3 separate regions of the Homo sapiens genome follow, and all the other regions are linked to region 2. Evidence: fine-mapped expression QTL. A gene starts in region 2. Each other region holds a variant in brackets. All regions are shown on one strand. Distances are between the middles of the regions.

Region 1 (9,904 bases), 110 kb before region 2:
CTCTTTATTTCTTATTGGGAGAGAATAACATACCTGCAAAGAAGGCTGAGAAATATTCTCGAAGATGAGACACACAGAAGCCACGGAGAAAAAGGGATTAAGTGATGGAGTCAAAAGTGAGAAGCCTCAGTCATGTTCCTGATAAGAACGGAAGGTATTTGGGCAGACAGCCAAGCCCGCATTGACTGACACAGGGCCGTAACAGGAGAGATTTCTTCACAGACAGAACTGTTTTCCAAAGCAAGCTGCAGAGGCCACCGGTGGGGAGGGGGCACTGGGGACACTTTCCCTGGCCACTACCTTGTGAACTTCTGGGGACTTCTTTCGTTTGGAACTCCCACTACACAAGGCTAAGGCTTTCCACAGCCAAAGCTTGGCAAGCCCTCGCTTAAGGAAGAGGGACCAGAACCACAAAGCTGGCATGTGGGTGAAGACGGCGCCTCTGGCCTAGATCCCAGGGCACTCTGATGAGACCCCACAGCTGGCTCCACTCCCCCACCCCATCCCACTCTCCCCATACTGTGAGCTGGGGCCATCTGGGTGAGGAAATCGCTATGGTTCTTTCTGGCTCAGGGTCTGGTGTGGCCAAGGGCTTGCCCTGTCCAAATGCCCCCCAGAATAGTGGCTCCCTACCAGGCTAACTTCAGCTTCAGTAGTTGTTAAGCTCCAAAACACCCATCTCCATCTAGGACAAGAAAAGGACCCAGGGGGAGGGTGATGTCCCGGATCTCATAATGATTGTTTTCAGTATTCGGATCAGCAGAGAGGATTGGATATGGAAAGGAGAAAATCCCCCACAAAGTTGTCAGGTAAGTCAGGGATAAAATCCCCCGTCCTCGTGATGAATCAGGACAGCCAGTGCCCACAGCAGTTAGGACGCGGCCTCCTGCGTCAGGCAAACCCGGGTCTGCTTACCTGGGCGAACCATTGCACCACTCCATCTGGGCGTGGTGACAGTCCATGCCTAACCCACAGGGATCCCTGTGAGGAGTAAGGCTCTGGGGCAGAAGGGCCACCCCAAGCCGCCTGGAAGTGTGCCTGCCTGTTAGCCACCGCTGTCATACCTTTCAAACACAGCACCTGCGAGGATGCAGGAGACAGATCTGGGAGGTACCACACCCAAGGTCACCTTTCTCCCCCATCAGTGTCGTTGACTTGTTCTCGCCCCAATCCCAGGCAAGTGGGGAAATGTTTTTTTTTTGCCATGAATGCAGACTGGAGGAGAATGTGTGAGGCTTGCGTAGTTGCAAGGCCCCATGGCCCTCCCGGGTTTGCCCTGCTTCCTCTCAGCCTGATGCTTGGTGACCCCCCCTCACTGTTGGGGGGGCTGAGCCTGGGTCCCTGGGGAGGATGGTGACACACGGGCCACACAGGAAGGATTCAGAACCTTCCAGGCTCTGTCCTGGGGACCTGCAATCTTCTTGCTTCTTGCACGCAGCAGAGTTAACTCAATTTTGGTGACCAAGCCTCATCTGATTTAGTCAGTACTGGATGTGTTTGCTCAGAATGACCCAGCCACCAAGACTTTTCCATATGACTTGCCTGACTTTTGAAAGATGTCCCTAGTATAATGTCCCATGGACCACGGGAAGACGTTGTTCAAACTCGAGGCTTTTTTTTTTTTTTTTTTTTTGTGGCGGGGTGGGGGTTGGAGTCTCGCTCTGTCACCCAGGCTGGAGTGCAGTGGTGCGATCTTGGCTCACTGCAGCCTCTGCTTCCCGGATTCAAGATATTCTCCTGCTTAGCCTCCCGAGTAGCTGGGACTACAGGTGTCCACCACCACACCCAGCTAATTTTTGTATTTTTAGTAGAGATGGGGTTTCACCATATTGGCCAGGCTGGTCTCAATCTCCTGGCCTTGTGATCCGCCTGCCTCGGCCTCCCAAAGTGCTGGGATTACAGGTGTGAGCCACCGCACCTGGCCAAAATCGAGGCTCTTTAGGGAGCAGAGTGTGGGGAAAGACAATGAAAGTCGAATATGGAACCTGATCAAGTAGGCACCAAACAGAAACAGACATTCACTCAATGAAGTTAAATTTGCCTAAGAAGGACCTCACGGGACGCTCAACACAACTGCAGTAATGGGAAGGTCTCATAAACTCCGTGAAGCTCAGTGCAGGTTCAATTCCCTGTGAGTTGCAGGGAAATGCAGATTCTCTTTGGAGAAGCTTGGAAGTTTTTGTGGGTGTTTTGTTTTGCATAAGGCTGGGAAGCTCATTGCTCCATCTTTTTTTTCCAGAGCCTGCAGCAGAGACATCCCTCAGGGGATCGGCTTGGCTTAGTGGCTGGATCTGAGTGGAATGGGCTCTCACTTGCCATGTGTGCAGTGGTGCTTGCCAGCCCCATATACTCAGCCAGGGCCATGCTGGCTCCCTCTGTCATAAGACCACTTACGATGCTCTTTCCTCATCCCCAGGGATGGCCAGCTACTCCAAAGCCAATCAAGAATCAACCTGAGGGCTGTTGAACCCAGGGAGATACTGGAACCAGATGCACTTCAACTAGAGTCACTCCAAAAAGCCACTTTGAATCACATCTCTAAGGCAAGGTCCAGGTCCCTGGAGGTTCTGTCAGTCCGTCCTACATGCTATTCTGTCCTTCTGGATGGAGAAGAGAAACTCTTCTCAGTCAACAGCATTCCTCCAGAGACCTGAAGTGGCCACTGAAGCCTCCCCTAGACCCGGCTCAACAGCTGCCTTTTCCCATCATGTATCAGACAACAGGTGGCTGCCATTTTAGAAACAGAGTGTTACAATGTTACAATTATTCTCTCATGACTGGGGAATGCAGCCACCCACTGCCTGTCAGAACAGCACCTCTTCCTGCTCATCTGGAATGACACACGACACAAACTAGAAGAAAAGAGGGAAAACCACCAGGCCGGAAGGCAGGCCTGCTAGTGTCTTCAATGAAACAGGCACCTCAAATACAACTGCACTCATACAACTGCAACATCAAGAGGTATTTCTATTAGCCAAACTCAAAAACATTTCTTTTTTAAACTGCTCAGTGGTTTGAGACACCAAGAACAGTTAATATCATACACACCAGATTATATAACAAAAAAAATCAAGTATTTAAAAGAGTAGCCTGTATTTTTGTTCCTTCACCTTGTTTTTTTTCTTGATACAGGGTCTGGCTCTGTCACCCAGGCTGGAGTGCAGTGGCTCAAGAGATCCTCCCACCTCAGCCTCCCAAGTAGCTGGGACTGCAGGCATGTGCCACCACACCTAATTCTTGTATTTTTTGTAGAAATGGGCTTTCGCCATGTTGCCAATGCTGGTCTCAAACTCCTGGACTCAAGCGATCCGCCCGCTTCAGCCTCCAAAAGTGCTGGGATTACAGGCATGAGCCACCGCACCCCGCCTGTTCCCTGACCTTTTAAACGAATTCACGTATTAACGGAGAATCAACATCTAAATAGACTTTTATTTTTATTTTACTTGTTTGGACAGAAAAGAAAATTCATCAGCTTTCATTAGAGTCTCCTTAAGTGTTGGAAACACATTAAACTCAGAAATAGTGGACCTTGTAGAAAAGCATCACAAATTAAAAATATATTTCTCCATGTGGTAAAAGTGCTTTCAATCCCATTAAAGGGCACAGCAAGGGTGTTTGGAAACACGATCTGAAATTTGGCCTGCAATCCGTGGCATCGATTCCAACCACAGGGCGGGGGAGTCACCATGATCTAGAGCACAGGAGCCACGTGGGGCCCGGAGCATGCGGACAGCAACACTCGCAATAACTGAGTGAGGACGAGGCCCATAGCCTGAGTAGAATAGATTCTGTATTTGTAAAAAATGAGGTGGTTACATCAACTGGGTTGAAGGGGGACTGGGTAATCCCAGAAATTCCTTGTTTCTGGTCTGTGGGGATGGTCAGATCTGCCCACCACTCTGGCACCGAGGCTTCCCTGGAGACGCATAAACCTGGGTTGGGAAAGTGCCCAGATCTGCCTGGGGGACACACGAGCCTCGCTGCCAGTGCCGGGCACGCAGCCTCTCCAGTCCTGCCGTCAGCAACCGCCTCCGGCCCTCATGTCAAATCACACCTGACCAGAGTTGTCACCACAGTCCTGTTTTGGGGTTTTTCCAAGGCCAGCCCTGTTGTTCTGAGGGGCCACTCTGAGCAGGCAAACACTGCCAGGGTCACTCACTACACACAGAGGAAAGACAATGAGCAAATGGCCATCGTAGAGAATTCGGTTGTGTGTTTCAGCAATGCTACTTATTTTTCAAGACAAGTAATTCTGCCAATGATGACATCTGCGACAAAGCTTAGGGCCCGCGGGCTCCCCATGCGCCTCGTGGAGAGCAACCACGTCTGTTCGGAAGCCAGCGGCCCTTCCCGGCCCTGCCACAGGCCAGAACACAGAACTGTGATCATGCAAAGAGCCGTGACTGAGGCCGGGGTCAGCGTCGGGGGTGGAGAGGAGGGGACATCTGCCTTTTACATTAGATCTGAAGCAACAGTAAGAAAATAACCTGAAGATATATTTAAAAATAAAAAATAGCATCATCCTTCACTCCAAGTTTTTGGCATTTCCCTCTCTCCCCTGCCCACCAGCTAAGCAGAGGGAATGAGCAGGAATGCCTCGTTTTTCAGAATGGGCACCCACTCCCCATTTCACCACTGTACACCCAGGATGTGTGTCTTCTTCTAAGAGACCGGTTCAAAGGTGCTGGCATGAGGCAAATGCTGGAAAACCCTCCGGCCTCCCCTGACACCTGAGCCATTGTAACCATGCAGGGCGTCTTTGCTTCCTTCAAGTCTTGAACTTGAACCACGTCCCAGATTGCTGTAGATCTTTAGGAAGCAGGCATCTCTCTTAGAGCGTGCTCCAGCTCATTCTACCACGGGGGCCTTCCTTCACAGTCACCAGTCCACGCTGCCTCGCAAGCTCCACGGATGTCATGAGAGAATCTGCCCTTGAGAACGTGGGTGTAAGTGCTCATCACACCGGCGGCACTGTTTCTCGAGGGAGGACATGCTCTTCTTGGAATGCAAATGAGGACAGCAACCGTCCTCTGACCAGGTCCATCCTGTCCCTCCAGAGGCCCTGTGCATCCCTCCCAGGCAGCAAGCCACACACCAGGCCGTGTCCGGGTCTCTGATGGGCAAGTTGGAACGGCAGGCTCTCCTCCTCCTCTTGCCCCTCCCTTGACCGAGTCCTGCGCCCCCAGCATCAGTGGGTCGGAGAGGCATCCTCCAAGCCCAGCAGCTCTCTGACGAGTCTCTCTCCAAACTGCGCCCGGCTGTACCTCTTCACGTGGTAGGCGTCTGACATTTTGTACAGGATGTAGGCATTGTTGATGGCGATGCTGATGGCGAACCAGAACACCTGCTGCCAGGTCTTGTTTGGTTTATGAGAAATGAAATACCTGAGGACAGAGGGAATAAGAACGGCTGACCCGATGGTTCATGGCACCCGGAGATGCATCCCAAAGGCCCCCCCTCACCACAGCCCGTGAGACGCTGCAGGTTCGCCCCCGACAGAAGCAGGAGGGCTATGGGGGCAGGAGTCAGGCTTGGGATGTTAGGTGAGTTCCAGCTGGGGGTTTTGTCACAGTGAACTTCATTTAAGACCAAGGAAATGAAAACAACAAGGTTGCTGGAGTAGACCCTGAAAGCCAGGTGCCAGGTGTGCTGGGGTGGCGCACAGCCCCGGAGTGGACAGGCGCCTGCCAGCCTCTCCAGCTTCCCTGCTTGCTGAATGCTCCTTGCAAAGCTGTGCTCTGTACGTGCTGTGCAGCTGACACTCCCCCAAGGCCAAGCTCTTCCTCAGCTCCAGGCCCCTGCAGGGCATTCCCCTGCTCCCGAATGTACCTTTGCCATCCCCACCATCCCTGCAGATGAAGGCACACAGGTCACCCCTCCGGGAAGCCCACCCAGACCCTGAGAACACTGGCCTTCTTGGGAGCACTAGCCTCAGGCCTCACTCACTGCACTGTCTTCTCCATTTGTGAGTTTGCCTCTGCACCCTGTATAAAGTATGGGAGGATCGGTATCCTCAATATCTCACTATGTCTGAAATGCCCAGCACAGAGCAGGCACGACAGACATCTACCCCACAAATGCCAGCTGCTTTAGAACAACCTCATAGAACACAGCAAGGTGCCAGTACATAGTAGGTGCTCAGTGAACTGAATGCCAATGTCTTTGTAACAACCTCATGGAATTTAGTAAGGTGCTGAGCACATAGTGGGCGTTCAACAAAGACTTGTTCAATGAATCCCCAAGGAGTGGGACTACCTTTCACACACAGGCTGAGTTTTCCAGAGAGAACCAGGTCCTTGTTTTTCCCTCTTTATCATGAAAAAGGCCAGGAAGTACAGGTTACCCTCAAAGAAGGTTCAGTCAATATCTGATTTTGAGTTAGCCCAACCCTGTTCTAAGTGGTAAGGCTCAATCCCAGTAATTTAATAGTTTCAATGTTCAATAGTCGTCATTTTTTGAGTTCCCATCATGGTGGCTATAATGGCACGAGGTCAGGGGTGGCATCGTGGGTGTCTGGACGTCCGCACATTGTGGATCTTGTCTATGCTGTGTGTAAACTATGCATACTATGTGTATATTGAACATGAGACCACATCTGGTGATCTAAATAGGCATCCATATTTGAGAAAATTAAGGCACCCGTGCTAGAACACATGTGACTTGGGGTAGAAGTGCCCGAGCTGATGCCCAGTGTGTTAGGGGTGTGGGGAAGGAGGACAGCAATTCAGAATAGAGGACTGGGGCAAGCGATGCCAACGGCTGGAGTTTGAGCTCACTGCTGAGGGACAGTTCAGTTCAGTAAGCAAAGGAAAGGGTGCCTCTGGGCACAGGGAATGTGAACCCAGCATTGGGAGAGTGGAGGACACAGAGTACCTGGGCAGAGGACTTCTAGGTAAAGCCATGTGTGCACAGGCGAGGCCCAGAAGCCCAGGCTGAGGGCAGGATCTTACCTCCCAGGGTCTTCATCCTGCAGTTCTTACACTGGGGAAACTAGTGATCATCTGCCATTACATCTCTTCCGAGACGGCACAACTATGAGAGCCCTTCTGTCATGGAGGTGCCCAGCCACTTACTTGCTGTATTTGTCATCGTATCT[G/A]CAGATGTAGCTCAGGTGAGCGGCAAACGCCTCCACGGCCAAGGGGCATGGGATCTCCCCACTCTTCCTTTTGATGATGACTCCTGAAGGCGAGAGACAAGATAAGCCCCTTCCTCAGCACCTCCTCCTAATGCCACTTTATAAATGTGCCTATCTTCGTCCAGCTTAGCTGCTCCCAACTTAATAATGAGCAGAGGAGGAGGAGGGGAGGGAAGAGTTGAAGAAGAACAATCAGCACCAACCACCAGGTGCTTCAGAGGGATTGAGGAAAGCATCAGTCAGGTGAGTGCCATGGTATGCGCTGGCCCAGACACAGCACCCCAAGTCATGGGGTTTACAGGCCTCTAGGATCCTGGCAGGCCTGAAGGGGCTCTAAGCAGCATGGGGAAGGGTGCTGCATCCGACTGGGCCTTGAAAGAGTGAAAGCGGAGACAGGGCTCACTCCTCCCTCCCTCCCCCTTCTGCCAGGCTGGGTGAGGGATGCTAGGAAGAAGAGGTGGTGGCTGAGGTCAGACAGCACCATGGAGCCCTTTCCACCTGCCTTCATCAAAGCCAAGGGGTGTCGGCAACTCGTCACCCCACACAGGGTGACTGCAGAGTCACCCCGCACAGAGCACTAGACCTCACTCCTCCCATCTAGGCTGTGGTTTTGCATCCTTTAATAAATCCCCCGATAAGTGTGTGAGATGATGGATATGCTAATTACCCTGATCTGATCTCCATACATTATATGTAGCAGAACATCACTATGTGCCCCGTGAAAATGTGTAATTATTGTTTGTCAATTTAAAAAAGCAAAAGGAGGCTGCGCACGGTGGCTCACGCCTGTAACCCCAGCACTTTGGGAGGCCAAGGCGGGGGGATCACCTGAGGTCAGTAGTTTGAGATTAGCCTGGCCAACATGGCAAAACCCCATCTCTACTAAAAATACAAAAGTTAGCTGGGCACGGTGGCAGGCGCCTGTAATTCCAGCTACTCAGGAGCCTGAGGCAGGAGAATCACTTGAAACTGGGAGGCCGAGGTTGCGGTTTGCTGAGATCGCTGCCATTGTATTCCAGCCTGGGTGACAAGAGCGAAACTCCATCTCAAAATGAAATAAAAAATAAAAAAGCAAAAGGGTGGAATTATTATCATTATTTTTTTAGATATGAGGTCTTGCTCTGTCACTCAGGCTGAAGTGCAGTGTCATGATCATAGCTCACTGCAGCCTAAAATTCCTGGGCTCAAGGGATACTCCCACCTCAGCCACCCAAGGAGCTGGGATCACAGGTACATGCCACCATGCCCAGCTAATTAAAACAATTTTTTAAAACAGAGACTCACCATGTTGCCTAGGTCTCACCATGTTGCCTAGGCTGGTCTCAAACTCCTGGCCTTATGTGATCCTCTACCTGGGCCTCCCAAAACTCTGGGATTACATGTGCGAGCCTCCACGCGCAGCCAAAAGGAATTAGAGGCTCAGAAGAAGGAGGAGGTTGTCCTTTTCAACCCTCCCATCCCCCAGCTCCGTCCTTTCATGCCTCCTCGAACTTTGGGGGCCCTACACCCTCAAACACCTTTTCCTCTACTAAGTACAACTGGGAATGCATCCCAGGGGCACCGCAAAGGTCATGGCAAGATGAACAAATCCTACCAGCAGGGCCTGAGAAGCACACGGAGACCCATGAGCCCTCCTTGCCCCGCTGCCAAGCCACTGCTGGTCATTCTGGCTTCCCAGGCCTGCCCTATGCGCCACCCACCGCAGACAACACGGAAGATGAGACGGACGCCTTCTTCCTAACAGCCGCGGCCATTCGAGAGTGGCTGGAGTTGACCTACTGTTTCCTTGAACTGGCCTTCCCTCACAGCAGCAAGGGACTATGGGCACAGTGCCATTTTTCTGTATTTTTTTTTTTAAGGCATTGGCTCACAGGATTGTGAAATTTCAGCAATACTTAAATGGACAAGGTCAAAGTCAAACGGGCATGTCCTTTGCAGGTCCACAGGAGCTTCATCTGGGGCCAGCCCCCTCCCACCCCCACAACTCTCACTGAGGGACCGTGGCTGAGGAGACCAGGGTCGCGCAGATCTGCTTACATACACTGAGCCGGACTCTTTCCTTCTTTCCTCAGAAACAGCAGCATTTCGCATGGAAGAAACACTGGCCAGCTTGTGGGAAATTGAGCTGCCAAGGCCTGCCCTAGAGACGCAGGACCGGGGAAGGGGCCCTGGCAATGAGTTTCCTAAAGCTATCCAAGGGCCAGAAAACCATGGCGGCCCCCACACTGGAGCTTCCTCCTGGCCGGAAGACTATGGCCTCCTTCACTTGCTTATGGAGCCCCTCCTCCTGAGAGATGTTCTGCTGTCGGGAGCCTGCAGAGGGGGCGTTCTCCAGGGCTCAGCGCACCAGGCGCCAGGGAGGGCGTGCGGGCCTGCAGTGCCCAAGGACTGCCGTCTCTCTCCAACGCCCCTCCTGAGGATTCCTGTCCCCGGCCCCTTATCTCAGCTGCCTCTGCCTCCAAGACCGAGTAGGAGTAACCCCTTGTCACACTTGGGGCCACAGCATGTGGCCCGTGCAGGTCTCCCATCTCCAGCTATGTTTTGATTTGCCTGACCTCCAATGACAACCTTCTCTGGGTCACAGGAGGCTCTGGCCTCTGTAGGGTTCCACTTGGATGTGAGCAGGTGAGACCATCCCTATAAAGAAATGCAAATCCCCTTAGTTCTTTTCCCGGAACTCAGGATGCCCCGCTCTGAGTCATTAGTGTCTCCGGTGAGTCATGGCCGCTCTCCGAAGATCTCGGGGTTTCCCATAGACCCGTCCCCATA
Region 2 (10,492 bases):
CTAGCACAAGTTCTCTATTTCGCCCTGAGACACGCAGAGACTTGCTGTGCAGTCCCAGGTGGACCTGGATCTCAAATGTTCCAGGATCGAAATTACATCACAGATGCTCACGGCATAAAGTCTGCCAAACCAGGTCTGTGGACTGGTACAATTCTTAAAGAGCCAATAGGAAAACAGCTGTCTAGGGCCAGGAGACCTTAATGACATCCTGGAAAATATAGGACAGTATAAAAGGACTATAGAGAGTCAATGATTTTGAAAATTCCCAAGCTCTTAACTACAGCCCAAATGCACATGCTTTAAAATGTACCCACCCCCAAAGCAGTGCACAGCTAACTGTGACTTTGCAAGCCCAGCTTTAGCTCCGCGCATCCACACCGCAGCCTGCCAGAGGTCTGCAGACCACTCCCTACTCAGAGTCCAGCTAACCCTACCGGCCTCCCAGCAGGCTGCAGCATGATGCCCAGATCCAAGTCCAGGCACCAGCTGGAGGTCCCTTGGGCCTGCCTTCCCATGTGCCGTGTTCCTGACCGGTTGAACAATAATCAGAGAAGGCCACAGGAAAAGCCGCATCATGCCCACCGCGGCCACTCCCTGGCCCTCATCAACACCGGTTGCGCGCACTTCTACGGAAGAACACAGCATGCAGGAGCACGGGCCTGCTACAGAAGGCCGTGGAACAAGAAATACCAGCATGAGAGGGCGGCTGGTCTGCAGCTTTCAAAGAAGGCAGAGGCTGCGGAGCTTCTGCAGAGGAAGTGGTGATATTTCAACAGCCAACTCCCACAAAAACAGACAGTGAAGAGGAGTGGGGCAGCCGCAGCTGCCAGCACCCTAGCCACCTTCTCCAGGTATTCGGGGCTTGTCTGTGGCCACAGTGGTAAGCAGGACACACCTGAAAGTACCTTCTGGCGGAAAAGCAAGCACCTTAACGCTGCCCAATCGGTCCCTTCCTTCACTCCTCCCCATTCTTAACAAGAGATCTGGAATGGCGCGGACAGGGAAAGTTTCTCAGATTAAGGAGAAAACTAAGCCAAGTCAAGACGCCGCGGGTGGCCTCTCTCTCAACTCTCACTGGGCCAACTCCTACCTGCCTCGCCCGCGTCACCTGCTGTAAGGCTTGCTCTTGGGCTGTCAGTGAAAAAACGACTCCCCCTGCCTCCACCAGCCACGCCGGGCTTTCAGAAAAGCCCCCTCAACTAGGAAAGCCTAACTTCAATCCACCCCTAAAAGTCCGACCCACAGGTGTGACAGACTTCCCATGCAGGGGCTGGGGTGCTCCCAGGAAGTGAAGGAAAAGGTCCCCGACGACATTGTCACTGGAAAAGTGCTGGCCACGGCCTCCGCCTTACCCTCTCCACCCACGGGTTCGGAGCCCCCAGGAGCAGTCAGACCGATCACCGCTCCTGCAGCCTCATTTGTTTCCGGAGAGACACCCACAAGCCAGCCCACGGAGAGTCTGGACTCGCCCGCCCCAGCACCCACGCCTCCCCCGCGCCCGGTTCCAGCGCCGCCCCCGACATCCACCCGCGGGCAGCCCCTTACCGCCGGTATCCTCGAAGCGCGGGGGCGGGCGGTCCCGCAGCGCTGCGCTCCAGCCCGCGCCGGCCTCGTCCTCCTCCGGCTCCTGTGCGTCCGGGGCGCGGGGCGGTGGCGGGGCGGCCCCTGGGGGTCCCGGGGGCTCGCGCTCGTCGTCCGAGGAGGCGGCCGAGGAGGAGCGCGAGGCGGCCGAGGTGCTGTAGAAGGGGTTCCCGCCGCTGTCCGGGCCGGACTCGCCGAACACGTCGTCCGAGATGTGCAGGCTCTCGTAGCGCGCGCGGGCAGCCTCGAGCAGCGCCGGCGCCCTCCTCCGCGCGCCCCCGCCGCCCTCGGCCATGGCCCCGGCCGCCGCCCGCGCGCCCGCCCCCACAGTGCCTCCCAGCCGCACACGCCGGGCCCTGGGCCCGCGCCGCGGCCCGCCGCCCCCCACCAGCGCAGCCCGCAGCACAGCGCCCGCCGCCCCGTGCCCGGCCGGCCCGCCGTCTTGGCCGCCTCGGGCCCAGCGCCCGGGGAAGCGCCCTCGGAGCTCGGGCGCCGCAGGCTGCGGGCCGCGGCGGGAGGCGAGCCGCGCGCGGGGCTGGCAGGGGCGACCCAGAGCGGGCGGGACGCAGAGGCTGCGGCCGAGACCAGGCGCCGCCGCCGCCACCGCCGCCACCACCGCCACCACCGCCGCCGCTGCGTCTCCTCGGCGCCCGCCGCCTCCCTGCCCGCCCTCTCCACGGCCTCCGGCGCTCGGCTGCCGACCTTCCCGGGCGCGAGCCGCCAGAGGCGGGCCCTGCCGCCCCTCACCTCCCGCCCGCCGGCCAATGGGGAGCCCGGCCCGGACAGCCGCGGGGGAGCTGGGCGGGCCCGGCGCGGGGAACGCCCCCACCCTCCTCCGCGGGGCGGGGCGGGGCGCGCGGCCGGGGCTGGCGGTTAGGGGGAGGGCCGCCGGCGGCAGTGCCGGTCTCCTCCTACAGGGACGCGCAGCCCGGGACCGCCACGCGCAGCGCGGGAGGGGGAGGGCGGGACCGGGGAACAGGAGGGGAGGGGGACCCGGGTGCTTCCAGCGGTCCGGGCCCGCGGACGGAGTGCGGGCCGATCCCGCTCACTGTCCCCTTCCGCAGTCCGCGTGCAGCTCCAGGGAGCTGTCCGCCCCGGTGGTTCTGAACCAGGCGCCGCCGAAACGCTCCAGGTAGGCGGCGGGCCCGAGGTCACCACACCCGCGGCGGCGGCTGCTGCCGAGGTTTCCTGGGGGTCACTGCCAGCTGCGCCGCATGCTCCCATAAATACAGGGGCTGTCCAGCTTCTGGGAATCTCGCTCTAATTAGGAGCCCGCCTCGCCGGTCCACTGTTGGTCGCTGGTCAGATGCTAACTCCGTCTCGCTTCAGTATCCCTGTAATTTAAGGGTGCCAGCACTGGAGTTAAGTAGCTAGTCATTCCTCATCATCGTTGACGTGTGGCATCTTTTGAACTCAAAATATCCATTACTTCCAAATACTAATTACTCTCACACCTCTATTTTAATATCTCCTTCACACACACACTTGAAACACTCATGTACTGAAATATTGCATGATCACCCAGGCTTCAGTGCTCTCATAAACAATAGCACAGAAAGGTTGCATCCGCCCCTCTTCCTTGGGCAGGAATGTGTGGTGGTCATCCTGTTGATGGCGATACGCGTAACGGAGACTGCCTTGTCTTCTTGCTCCCCTCCTCCTCCTTCGAATAATGCAATAAGTCACACTAATGGTAAATGGGCCATAAAGTCACTTTCACTCTGAAATAAAATAAATCCTCAGAGATGTGAAGGGCTTACAAATCCTACTGAGCATTAACTAAATTGTAGTTACATGAAACAGAAAGGCATGTTGCGATTTCTACGAATGCATAAAGGATGAAGGACCATTTTGCCGCCAAGTGGGGTCACTTCTAGTGTCGAGCAGGAACCTTCACTCATGCCCTCCCCTCCCCAGCCCCTGTGGTTCCTCCTTCCACATCAGGGGCTCTGCACAGGCATAGGTTCATGATCATCACTAACAGACAATATATAAAAAGGAAAAGATTCATGGAACTTTCCTTGCTATGTGGATTGGCTGAAAAATGAGGAAGTGCTTGCAAAGCATTTTTACTCTCTTGGAAGAATTATGCCACGGAAAATATCTGGTTTCCAACATACCTATATACTGTGCTAACCAGCTGAAAGTTGTTGAAGAGAGTACAGGTAATCTGACTTATCAAAAAGGGTGATAGTAAAGCATAGGTTGAAGATGCAAGAAGAAGAGTAAGACTCCATAGCTCAAGTTCAAATTCTGCAATTAGGAATTGTGTGAGGCTCCTGCAAGATTTCATGTTATCTATTTTAAATAGTTGAATGGAAAAAATAATTGAATGGGATTCAGAGAGTTAAAATCTGTAGGAAAGAGTTCCTTCTTTTCTTCTCCAGCTAGCCAATGAAAAAGTCAACAGCTAAGGTACGTGTTTTAAAAACGATGAATTGCTTTGCTACCCATAAGGAACCAAGGAACAAAACAACAGCAGTGGCAAGGATGGACAGAGTCTTCCGGTGTCCCTAATTTGCATTTGTATGGTGCTAATTCCCAGGAAACCTTGGGGCCTTGTGCTTCCTAGGCTCACAAATGCTTGTAGCTCACACCACATGCAACACTGAGGAGAGGATTATATGGACACAAAAGAAACACTGAGAAGTCAAATTGTTACTTCAAAGCTTGTCCAATAAAAATTAGATGAATATTTCAACTTAGAGTGAAGTATTTTATAGCACTTACATTTGTTTAAGCCAGTTTCCAAACAAGAAAAGTAAAAACATTCCAACCTTTGAAAACAGATGACTGCTTCTCACTGTGGTAAGAGAAGGAGTGAGGGGACAAAACAATTGCAAAACAAAAGCTTTCTCCTCTGGCTGGCATCCTCCTATTTGATAATGACGATTATGATTCTACATCATTAACTTTTATTAGTAACATCATTTCTGAGAGTAATTATAGAATATATATCACACTGAGATCTTTTAACTTTGAGTCATTTGAAAACATCTTCCAAATAATTTAATTATAAAATATAATTAAATAATTTTAGATTAATATTGAGCTTTTGGTTTTATGGTTTTCCCAAACAGCTCAAGGTAGTAAAAAGCAATTCATTTGTGTAGTAGATTCCTTAGGTTTTGTTAAACCAATGGTTCATGCTTTTATGTAACTAGGGCTAAGCACCATATTTCATTAAGTCTAAACCTCCTTTCATGGTACAGTGAACCATTGTTTTATGTATCACTAAAAAAGAAAAAAGTGCTGCCATAGGAAACTATGATACAATGGTTCCTTTTCTGTTCTAATTATAATTTAAACTTATTGAAAAAGCTATTTGATCATAATTTTTGGACAGATTTTTATTACGTATCACTCTATTGCATGCATACAGATAAAATATAAATTAATTGATTAAAGTTTTCCGAATTTCACATTCAGAATCTCACTATCCTTGTTTACTTTCTAACTCAGAGCTGTCAATGCCCAGGTTTTCTCCAGAATATGCTCCTCCAAGTCACTCAGAGCATTTGGTATGCTGCATTTCTTACACAAGTGCTCCTAACTCATCCAAGCTACTGGCCTCCCACTCTATGTGTCCCCCAAGCAGGAGCATGCTAGCTGTGGTCAGCCAGCACTGAGGAGGCAGATGACAGAGCTGAGAGAGAAGTGGTAGCAGATGAAATCAAAGAGGAAGTTGGGTGGGTGTTAAATCTTGCAAGACTTCAGATTTTATTTGGAGTGATATGGGGAGGCACTGGAGAGCATAGAGCAGAGAAATAAGATCTTGATGCTGATGTTTTGTTTGTTTTGTTTTGTTTTGTTTTGTTTTACCTAATCCAAGGTTTTCATACAATAACTAGATTCAATTTCCTTCTTCCAGTGGTTCTCAGCAGGCCTGTGGCCTGGCACACCAAGGGGTATATGAGGTCAGGCATGTCCTAGGAATAGCAATGAAGTTGGCATAGACTCAGACTCTGTTAACTGCACAGGGATTTTCACTTGCCCAGCACCAATTATAAGACATTCCTGATGTTAGTGATGTGAAATATGAAAAAAAGGAAGTGGGCATCTTAGAAGCCATCGAATACAGTATATATATTTTTCCTCGGCAGTTTTACAAGTCTTGATTTTGCAAATAGTCAAGCTGTGGCAGGACACAGAAATGAACATGAATGCTAATGTGGCAGAGAGTGCCCTGGCCAGCTCCAGACTGCACAGGCCAGATGAGGCTTGAGAAGTCTGCGTGTTGCTGGTCACTCTGGATGGAGACGGCAGGGATGGTGTCAGTGAAGCTGCTGCTTCTCCCCATGTTGCCTTCATCACCCAAAAGGAGGGGGCTACAGCCAAGGAGAAGCTCCTGGGGCTGCGAGAGGGTAGGGGGAGAAAGAGTGCAGCTGCTGGACAGTGGCCCGCATGTTGGGGAGGAGGTCGGAGGAGAATATGCGTGGCACAGGGTGACATTTGGGGTCATATCTAATGCAGGGACCTAAGGGTCCAACCTCTCTCACAGTGCTTTTATGTGGTAAATTTATCTAGGAGCCAACACAGAGAGGCAGAAAGAAGGAAATAGGACAATCCTCTGGAAAACTCTCGAGAAAATTCCCTTGTGTTCAGATTGAGATGATCTGACTTTTTCATTGATTGATTGATTCATTCATTCACTCACTAATTCAACAAATATGTATTGAGTCCTATTATGTGCCAGGCTCTCTTCTAGGCACTGGAAATAAATCAGAGAAAAAGAACGAAGACCCTGTTTTTATAGCACTTACATTGAAATGGTGGCGGGGGGTGGGGAGAGAAGAGACAAAAAATAAACAACCCAGTAAATATGTATATACCTGTTGTTGATAAGAGATAAAAAGTAGAGGGACAGAGACTGATGGTGGTTGTGATTGTGGTGGAGTGTGTGTGTGTGTGTGTGCACAAGCTTGTATAAATTGGTTGGGAGAAGTTGCTCTGATAAGGTGACATTTGGGCAGAACCTTCAATGGATTAAAGAAGCAAGCCATGTGCATTCAAGGATGAGAAACAAGTGCAAAGCACCCAAAGCAGGAGCACACTAGCTGTGGTCAGTCAGCAATGAGGAGGCAGATGTGGTTGAGACAGAGATGAGAGGAAGTGGTAGCAGATGAAATCGAAGAGTTGGGTGTTAAATCTTGCAATACTTTGTAGTTTATTTTGGGTAAAATTGGGAGCCACTGGAGAGCATAGAGCAGACAAATAAGATCTGGCTTGCATTTTAAGGGCCTCTCTTTAGCTGCTTAGAGGGAAATAGATTGGAGCAGAGGAAAAGTGGAATCAGGAAGACCAGTTCAGATACTATTGCGATAGTCCAGGCCATAAAAGAGGGTATTTGGGACCAGACTGGGAGTGATGGAAGTGATGAGAATTGGTCAGATCAGAATATGTCTTGAAGGTAGAACCCACAACTTTTATGAAAGAATTAAATGTGGACAGTGAGAGAAAGAGATGAGTTGAGAAGGACTCCATGGTTTTGGCTTTGCTCTTGTTGTTTGCATGGGCTACTGCAAGAGCAGCAGGATTGAAAGGGAGGAACAATAGCTTGGTTTTCAGCTGTAGAGTTTAACATATCTGAGTGGGTCTGGAAAGCAGGTAGTTGAAAACAGGAATCTGGAGTTCATCCAGGTCTAGGCTGGAGGTAAGATTGTGAGTGCCATCAGCAGATAGATAGTAGATACATCTTGTTTGCTTTGTTGTTGTTGTTGTTGTTGTTTTGAGACAGTCTCATTCTGTCACCCAGGCTGGAGTGCAGTGGCTTGATCTGGGCTCACTGCAACCTCTGCCTCCCAGGCTCAAGCAACTTTCCTGCCTCAGCCTCCCAAGTAGCTGGGATTACAGGCACCTGCCACCACGCCGGGCTAATTTTTGTATTTTTAGTAAGACGGGGTTTCACCATGTTGGCCAGGCTGATCTCAAACTCCTGACCTCAAATGATCTGCCCATCTCGGCCTCCCAAAGTGCTGGGATTACAAGCCTGAGCCACTGCACCTGGCAGTAGATACATCTTGGATGAAACCACCGTGGATGGAGCATAAATATGGAGGAAATGGGTGTGAGGGGGATTCCCAGAGCACATGATTTCTAAACATGAGGCAGATGAATCACTCAAGGAGACTGAGAAGGCTGGAGAATTGAGACAAAGTAAAGTCCTGGTGGCTAAGAAAGTATTTCAAGGAGGAATACTTTCAAATAACTGTCAAATGCTGCTAAGAGATATAAGAAGAGGACTGAGAATTAACTTCTGGGTTTGTCAGTGAGCAGACAAAACTATGATTGGAGTGGATCTGAGAATGGGAGAAGAAATGGGGGTATTGAGTCAATATAAAGTTTGAGGAGTTTTGCTGAAAAGGGAGGAAGAAAGGGGAGGTGCCAAACAGGACTAAGGAGTTGAGGGAGGGATTTAAAAAAAAATCAGATGTTTGAATGATTGTGGGAATGTTTCAATAGAAAGGATATGGGAGAGATGCTGGAGAGAAAGGGAACAGTTGCCAAAGCAAAATCCTTGATTGCTTGAATGGTGGCGAGTTGGAATGCACAAGTAGAAGGTTTGTCTTATTGCAGAAGGCAGTGAAGTAAAGACTTCGTGCAGGCACATTCCTAGATTTAGTGGAAGTCTGCTGTGGTGTTCTTTCCTTACTGATTTGATGTTCTCAGTGAAGTGGGAAGTCAGGTCATGAGCTCTGCCTGATGAAGGGAGGGCGAGGAGTTTAGCTTCCGTTCTTGGCTGTACATTAGGATCACCTGGGGAGTTTCAAAAACACATATCCAGGGCCCTGATCCACACCAAGTAAATTATTATTATTACTATTATTTTTGAGACAGCGTTTCACTCTGTCACCCAGGCTGGAGTGCAAAGGCACGATCTCGGTTCACTGCAAACTCCATCTCCCGGGTTCAAGCGATTCTCCTGCCTCAGCCTCCCAAGTAGCTGGGATTGCAGAAGCCTACCACCACACCTGGCTAATTTTTGTATTTTTAGTAGAGACAGGGTTTTACCATGTTGGCCAGGCTGGTCTCAAACTCCTGACCTCAGGTGATCTACCCGCCTCAGACTCCCAGAGTGCTGGGATTATAGGCATGAGCCACTGCACCAGAGCACACCAAGTAAATTAGATTCTCTGGAGGTGGGACCTGGGCACTGGTGTGTTATAAGGTTTCTGGGTGACTCAACAGTGCAGCCAGAACTGAGGATCCCTGGGCTAGGAGTTTGAGGAAAGAATGTGTGGAATAGTCAAAATAGCTATCTAGGAGAGTTCAAGGATCAATGGACTAGAGAGAAACAATCTGGATTTGTGGTTGAGAATTTAACCTGAAATGGGCCACCATCGTTATGTTTCTCTCTAACTGCATTCAGTTGTCAGGCTCAGAAACAGGGTTGACAATGGATTGGGTTTTGCCAAAGTGGGGTTTTGACACATATGTATGGCGGAGTGGGAGAGTTTGAGAGATTGATCCTAATGATGGGCATGGAATCTGTGCCAGCAAAGGAAGCAAGTGAGGACTTGGGGGAAAGAATTAAAGTACATTAAATGGAGGTGGGTACAGTGGCTCATGCCTATAGTCCTAGCACTTTGGGAGGCCGAGATGGGCAGATTGCTTGAGCCAAGGAATTCAAGACCAGCCTGGGCAACATGGTGAAACCTCATCTCTACCAAAAAACAAACAAACAAACAAAAATTAGCCAGGCGTGGTGATGCATGCCTGTAGTCCCATCTACTCAGGGGTCTGAGGTGGGAGGATGGCTCGAACCCAAGAAACAGAGATTGCAGTGAGCCATGATTTCACGACTACACTCCAGCCTTCTAGCATGGGTGACAGACCCAGTCCCTGTCTCAAAAGAAAAAAAAAAAAAAAGGAAGTAGTTGGGAGATAGATAAATGGCTTCTTATCATGAGATTTTTTTTTCTATTTTAAGTTGTTTAGATAATTAACATTTTCACAAAGTAATTTAAGGCAGCTAGACACCTGCGAAGCAGCACAAATAACTCTGATTAATGTTTCAACCTACCTTTTTTTCCCAGGGTTTGAAATTAATTTTTTTTCAACAAGCAAACATCATGAGACATTTAGAGTGAAGAAAAAAAACATTTTGGAAAATATTATAGATCTTCCTATTCTTAGATAATGGGATAATTTAGTGAGCCACTGCTGATTCCAAAGCCCCTTTCCCAGTTTTGTAAGTTTGTCTTGTGTCTCTTCCCTGTCCCCTTGGCTACATCTTCCCACTTTAAACACACCCAACCCCCACTCTACTTGTTCCCCAACGAAATGAAGGGCTCTGATACAAGTACCACCCCTGAAGTGCATTTGCCTGTAAAGGAGAAATTGCAGGTTGGTGCTTAACACAAATGAACAAAGTGCTTAGCAGTAGGATCCCAGGTATTCTAAGAAGCGGAGAGGGATACTCCTAGCTGGGAGCCTTTCATAGCACTCCTGAATTCACAACCTCACGGATGGCACAAGTGCAACTTAAGGTCAACACTGGGTTGTTTTTGTTTGTTTGTTTGTTTGGTTGGTTGGTTGTTTTTTGTTTTGTTTTTTGTTTTTGAGACAGAGTCTAGCTCTGTTGCCCAGGCTGGAGTGCAGTGGCGTGATCTCAGCTCACTGCAAACTCTGCCTCCCAGGTTCAAGCGATTCTCCTGCCTCAGCCTCCCGAGTAACTGGGATTACAGGCATGAGCCACCATGCCCGGCTAGTGTGTGTGTGTGTGTGTGTGTGTGTGTGTCTGTGTGTGTATGTTTAATAGAGACAGGGTTTCACCAAGTTGGCCAGGCTGGTCTCGAACTCCTGACCTCAGGTGATTCACCTGCCTCTGCCCCCCAAAGTGCTGGGATTACAGGCATGAGCCACTGCGCCCGGCCAGTAGTGGGTATTTTTTAGAAACAACATTTGGTTC
Region 3 (5,000 bases), 87 kb before region 2:
TGGTGGTTACGGGGCTGGGGGATGGAAGTGGGAGTGGGGAGGTATTGGTCAAAGAATTCAAAATCTGTTAGATAGGAGGAATAAGTTCAAGAGATCTATGGTACCACATGGTGACTAAAGTTAATAACAATATATTCTTGGAAATTGCCAAGACGGTCGATTTTAAGTGTTCTCACCACAAAAAATGATAACTATGTGATGTAATGCATATGTCAGTTGGCTCGATTTGGCCATTTCAGTGTCTACATATTTCAAAATATGTTGTACACAATAAAAATATACTATTTTTATTTGTCAATTAAAAAATAAATTTTGTAAAAACCTTAAAAATATTCATGCTATTTTACTCATGAGTTTCACTTTTAGGAATTCAATCCAAGGTAACAATCAGAAATGTGTTAAAAGGATTTATATATAAAATACCATGTCCATTTCAGGGTTTTTTATAATGGTAAAAAAATTAACAATGACCTAACTACCTTACATGAAGAGCAGACTGGTTAAAATTATATATGTAGGTATAATGGAATGTGATATACTTTAAAAAATCATCATGTAGAAAAAGTGTTTAATAACATAGAAAATGTTCACAATATCCTTGTAAGTAGCCAGATTATAAAACAGTGCAAGTGTGTGTATATGTGTGTGTTTATAAATATATGTTGACTATACACTCAAGCGGCTATTTCTGTATAAAAAGTATTTATCAGAATGACAGATATGCTGGGCTTTTAATGTTTTTGATGCTAAATATGTAATACAACTTAATCAGAAAACAACCCACTAAAAATAATTATAAAATAACTTCCTTATCAGGATTACCCAAGCATAAGACTATTTGGAATTTGCAGTATCTTTGGGTCTGAGTGAACGGTTATTCATCATCTCCATGCCTGGAGATGACGATGACTCTGAGAATCAGGGTAGCCTCTTGCTGTCTTGGAATTAACACATTTTCCCAAAAGCCAGTGATGTGCAGCTGAGATTTTACAATCCCTGGGTAGAATACGGAAGGCAGTCCTGCCGCAGGACTGCCTTGAAATTACTCAGCCTCGTGTCCACACATGCACCTCTGAAAACTGCCATTTTTCCAGACTCCAGCCAGCCTCTTCTGAAGAAGTGGACGCTCAACTGGGATGTCACAGGAGAAGGGGACAGGCACTGAGCTAAAGGCACTGAGCCAGAGGAGACAGGCACTGAGCCGAAGGTCAAAGATTTCTTATTAGGAAATCTGGAAGAAGGATGCAGCCAAGAAGTGGCACCAATGAGAGTCCAAAGAGAGTCCCAAATGTGTGGCACTCATTGCTATAAAATAATGAGTTTCTAAAAGTGAATATAAAATAGGACCTTCATTTAAATAAATACAAAAAAGAGGTAACCTTGAAAGTCTCAGTTGAGGGCATGATTTAGGAAAAACTGTTGGCAAGGCAGTCAAAATCTGGCCAGGAAAAGGCCCAGTCTAAGAGGTACTGCTTGGTCTGATGGCCAGGCAGGTCCGGTACCTGACTGGTCCTGGTTTGCTTTGACAGAATAACGTCAGTGGTCAAAGGTAGTAACTTGTTTCCCTTAGCTGGATGAGCAACCTCCAGTGAAGTCTTATCCTATCCATGCTCTGTTGCTACAAATGCTTAAGCTATACAAGCTATGCTAATGATCTCGTCCAGGTTTAAAAGACAATCCTAAGGAATCCTGCCAGTAATCTGAGAAACAGCAGAATCACTGGGAACCCACACATGTATTCAGACACTGGGTTGGGTACTTTCTACAAGAGCTCCCCAGACACGACACGGAAGGAAATACCATTCACTTAGATGTGTGACTACTTCCTGGTCTGCTTTTCAAAAAGTCAGATATCTCCCTAGACATATCTAGAGAAAGCACTATCATACTAATATGGTTCCACCAACGTGTGTAGACATAGGTGACTTCCTATCACTGGGCAAAATGCAGCCAGTTATAGACACTTCTGAGCTACAAGACTGCTTGACAAGTATCTCTAGAGCAGGAAAATGTACCATTTGGTGGTTGCCAAGCTTTTCACTTTTCCTAAAAAGTTTTTTTGCTCCTATGATTTTTAAATATATATATATTTAAGAAAGTAGGCATGCAAGTTTATTACTATATGGCATTATACTTTGCCCCAGGGTATTATTCCTAATGTTGCATATTTTATACTGACATTACAACAAAAAGGATCTTAGGAATTATGGATTATAGCAGTTAATACCCTGGGGGACACATACAGCACATGGGATTTATCTTAGCTCTCCTGAAATGCCCCCACGACCTCCAGAGACAGGATCTAGTTCATCTTTTCCCTCAACTTCTCAAAAGAACAGTAAGGCTAGTGGCAGTAGCTGCTGACTCACCAGCTGATAGTTCCACTAAGCTGTTGCTGGGATCCGGGCACCCTCCTGCCTCTCTAACACAAAGAACTGGAGAAAGCCCAGTTCAGCTATACTGGTCTTGACCAATGAATGACCCTACTTCTTTTTCAGCACAGAAGAGAATCAATTTTCTCAGTGAAGAGCATATTTGGGGGAAGGGTATCACATCGTAGGGACTGGTGATCCTTTGCTTGAGTCTTATCTCTAGTGTGCAAGGAGCTATGAAGGTGAAAGTAATTCAGCTGTGGAAACAGCACAGCAGTGCACGATCTGCACTCACTGAAGACGCAGAATGAGATCACGGGGTGTGTGCGGCTGTCACCTGGGACATCTGCATGGGACAGCCACT[TGAGA/T]GAGTTGTGAATTGTAAATGACAGTCACTTGTCATGAGAGGAACTGAGGCAGGGAGGGTGAGTGCCAGGATACATGGGCACGGGCTCTGTCATTCACTGGCTTGTGGGTTTGGGGGCAAGTTACTTAATTGCTCTGAGCCTTGCTTTCCTTATCTGTAAGGATAACGTTGCCATATGCACCTTGCAAGGCCCTTGTCTTTAAGTGAAAATTGTGCACATAGAAGTGATTTTTTAATATAGCAAAGCTCTGTAACTGTGCTCCCAATGTGGTTGCCTTCAGCCACATATGGCTGTTTTCATTTACATTTAAATTAACTAAAATGAAAAATTCAGGCCCGCAGCCACACTGGTCACAATGCAAATAGTCAACAGTCACATGAGGCTAGGAACTGCCATCATGGAGAGCAGATATGAAACATTTCCATCATTGCAGAGAGTCCTGCTGGACAATGCTGCTTGTGTCATCTTTGTGTATTAGCTGGGGCTTCTAGCAAAGTCTCTAAGCCATCACCATACTGATGACTTTCATCTCTCATTGCCCAGTTTCTCTCTCAGGCCTCTCACCATGACCATGCCCAGGAAGAGCTCATGTGCTGAGTCTGTTCTTGGTCCTTCTCCTCTCTGGCTGCACCTTCAGCACCGCTGACCCCTGTGGGAGCCTTGCCTTCATCTCATCCCAAAGCTCAAAGCCTGAGGTGGTTCTTTCAAAATGACAGGTTGGAGGAGGGACATGTATCAGCATGTGGGCTCTCTGTACACACTCATGTCTGTGCAGTTGAAGAGTCGAAGTTCTTTAGGGAGAGGGTTGAATCTGATCCACACAGTAGCTGGTGCACTTACCTGGGCACTTAATAAATACTTTATTGTCATCTTTGAAGTCCTATACGGTAAAGAGGTGTGGGTGGATTAACTTCATTCAAAAGTGGAGAAAGAAGGTAGTTCTCAGCTACTTGCTCAAGGACACAAAGAGGTCCACGGTTATGTCTTCTGCCTCAGCCAATCCCATCCTCAACTTACCGTGTCCAACCTGGACAGGATCTCATGCCAGCATCCTCCTCACTGCACGATTAAACAGCTGGACACATGTCCTGCCCTGCCCAGCTTCTGAATCCACAAGCAAAATTCACTCCAGCCAATTAATTCCATAGTGGTCCTCACTTTTAGAGCCAATTCAATTAGTTATAGGTCAAGAGCAAAATATTTCACTTAGTATGTAAAAAGACTGAGTCAAATAAGGAAAAAAACACTTTAGTGCACCTTCTTTAAATTCTTTCAACATAAATAGTATGTCTCAAAATAAGGGAAATTAGTGACGTGGATGCTAGACCACTGTCCTACCAACAATCAAGCTGGATAAAAGATACTTGGCTTTTTGTCTAAATCGGGAAAAGTTCTCTCCTTGGAGGAGTCAACATAGCCTAGTGGTTAAGAAGGTGGGATCCAGGCTGGGCACAGTGGCTCACACCTGTAATCCCAGCACTTTGAGAGGCCGAGGCGGGCAGACCACGAGGTCAGGAGATGCAGACCATCCTGGCTAACACAGTGAAACCCCTTCTCTACTAAAAATACAAAAATTTAGCCGGGCGTGGTGGCGGGCACCTGTAGTCCCAGCTACTCGGGAGGCTGAGGCAGGAGAATGGTGTGAACCCAGGAGGTGGAGCTTGCAGTGAGCCGAGATCACGCCACTACACTCCAGCCTGGGCAACAGAGGGAGACTCCGTCTCCAAAAAAAAAAAAGAAGGTGAGATCTAGAGTCAGAATGGCTGGGTTTAATCCCAGGTCTACTGCTTTGTAGATCTAATTTTAGGCAAGGCAGCAAATCTCTCTGTGCCTCAGTTTCCTTACCAAGAAACAGTGGCGGTGACATTACTTGCCTCTTAAGGCCCTTGTGGAGAAAAAATGAATCCTGCATGTGAAGTGCTTAAGCACAGAGCCTGGCCCACAACACACACTCTGTAAGTGTTCGTCATTCTTTCCTGAACGCCAGAAGCAGCTGCCAGAATCCACAGATGAGACTGAGGGAGGGAAGGGGCTTCCAGGTCAGCTAGCTTAGCAGCACAGGGCACACGGACCTCATTCAGAGTGTCCCTCACAGATGTCATGAGGGCTCTGCCTGGACAGATTCCATGATGTGTGCAGGGGGTAGGAAGCACGGGTTCTTTTGCTTGGGGGTTACCATCTTGAATTCTGGCTTCTAATGCCCATCTACTTCCGGAGTATGTCAATGCCCAGCGTGAACCTGAAGCCCTGCCTCCACTGA

Which allele goes with the higher level. Alleles are on the strand shown, and positions count from the first base shown. SD is a standard deviation of normalised expression in the study named. Not every link is listed here.
For the expression in prefrontal cortex of the gene that starts at base 2,280 in region 2, allele G in region 1 goes with a lower level than allele A (small effect, 0.30 SD a copy in CommonMind).

Evidence for each region. PIP is the estimated chance that this variant, and not a neighbour inherited with it, causes the effect.
Region 1: its variant is the best candidate, but not a certain one, in a credible set for the expression of PGBD5 in prefrontal cortex (CommonMind, PIP 0.70).
Region 3: its variant is the best candidate, but not a certain one, in a credible set for the expression of PGBD5 in lung (TOPMed, PIP 0.79).

What each region holds. Positions count from the first base shown.
Region 1 is chr1:230,318,237-230,328,140 of GRCh38, forward strand. PGBD5 (piggyBac transposable element derived 5) reads right to left here. Exons shown (of 7, transcript NM_001258311.2): 6 at 7,074-7,179; 7 at 1-5,384. The coding sequence ends at 5,189. Among named protein-coding and RNA genes, the nearest start is that of PGBD5, 100 kb to the right of the region's middle. RefSeq lists an enhancer at 9,574-9,693. The variant G/A (reference allele first, on the strand shown) is at 7,097.
Region 2 is chr1:230,424,053-230,434,544 of GRCh38, forward strand. It overlaps PGBD5 (piggyBac transposable element derived 5), which reads right to left and starts at 2,280. Exons shown (of 7, transcript NM_001258311.2): 1 at 1,546-2,280. The coding sequence starts at 1,876. RefSeq lists a silencer at 2,227-2,546 and enhancers at 2,355-2,902, 2,903-3,449.
Region 3 is chr1:230,339,821-230,344,820 of GRCh38, forward strand. All of the region lies in intron 3 of PGBD5 (piggyBac transposable element derived 5), which reads right to left. Among named protein-coding and RNA genes, the nearest start is that of PGBD5, 84 kb to the right of the region's middle. The variant TGAGA/T (reference allele first, on the strand shown) is at 2,737.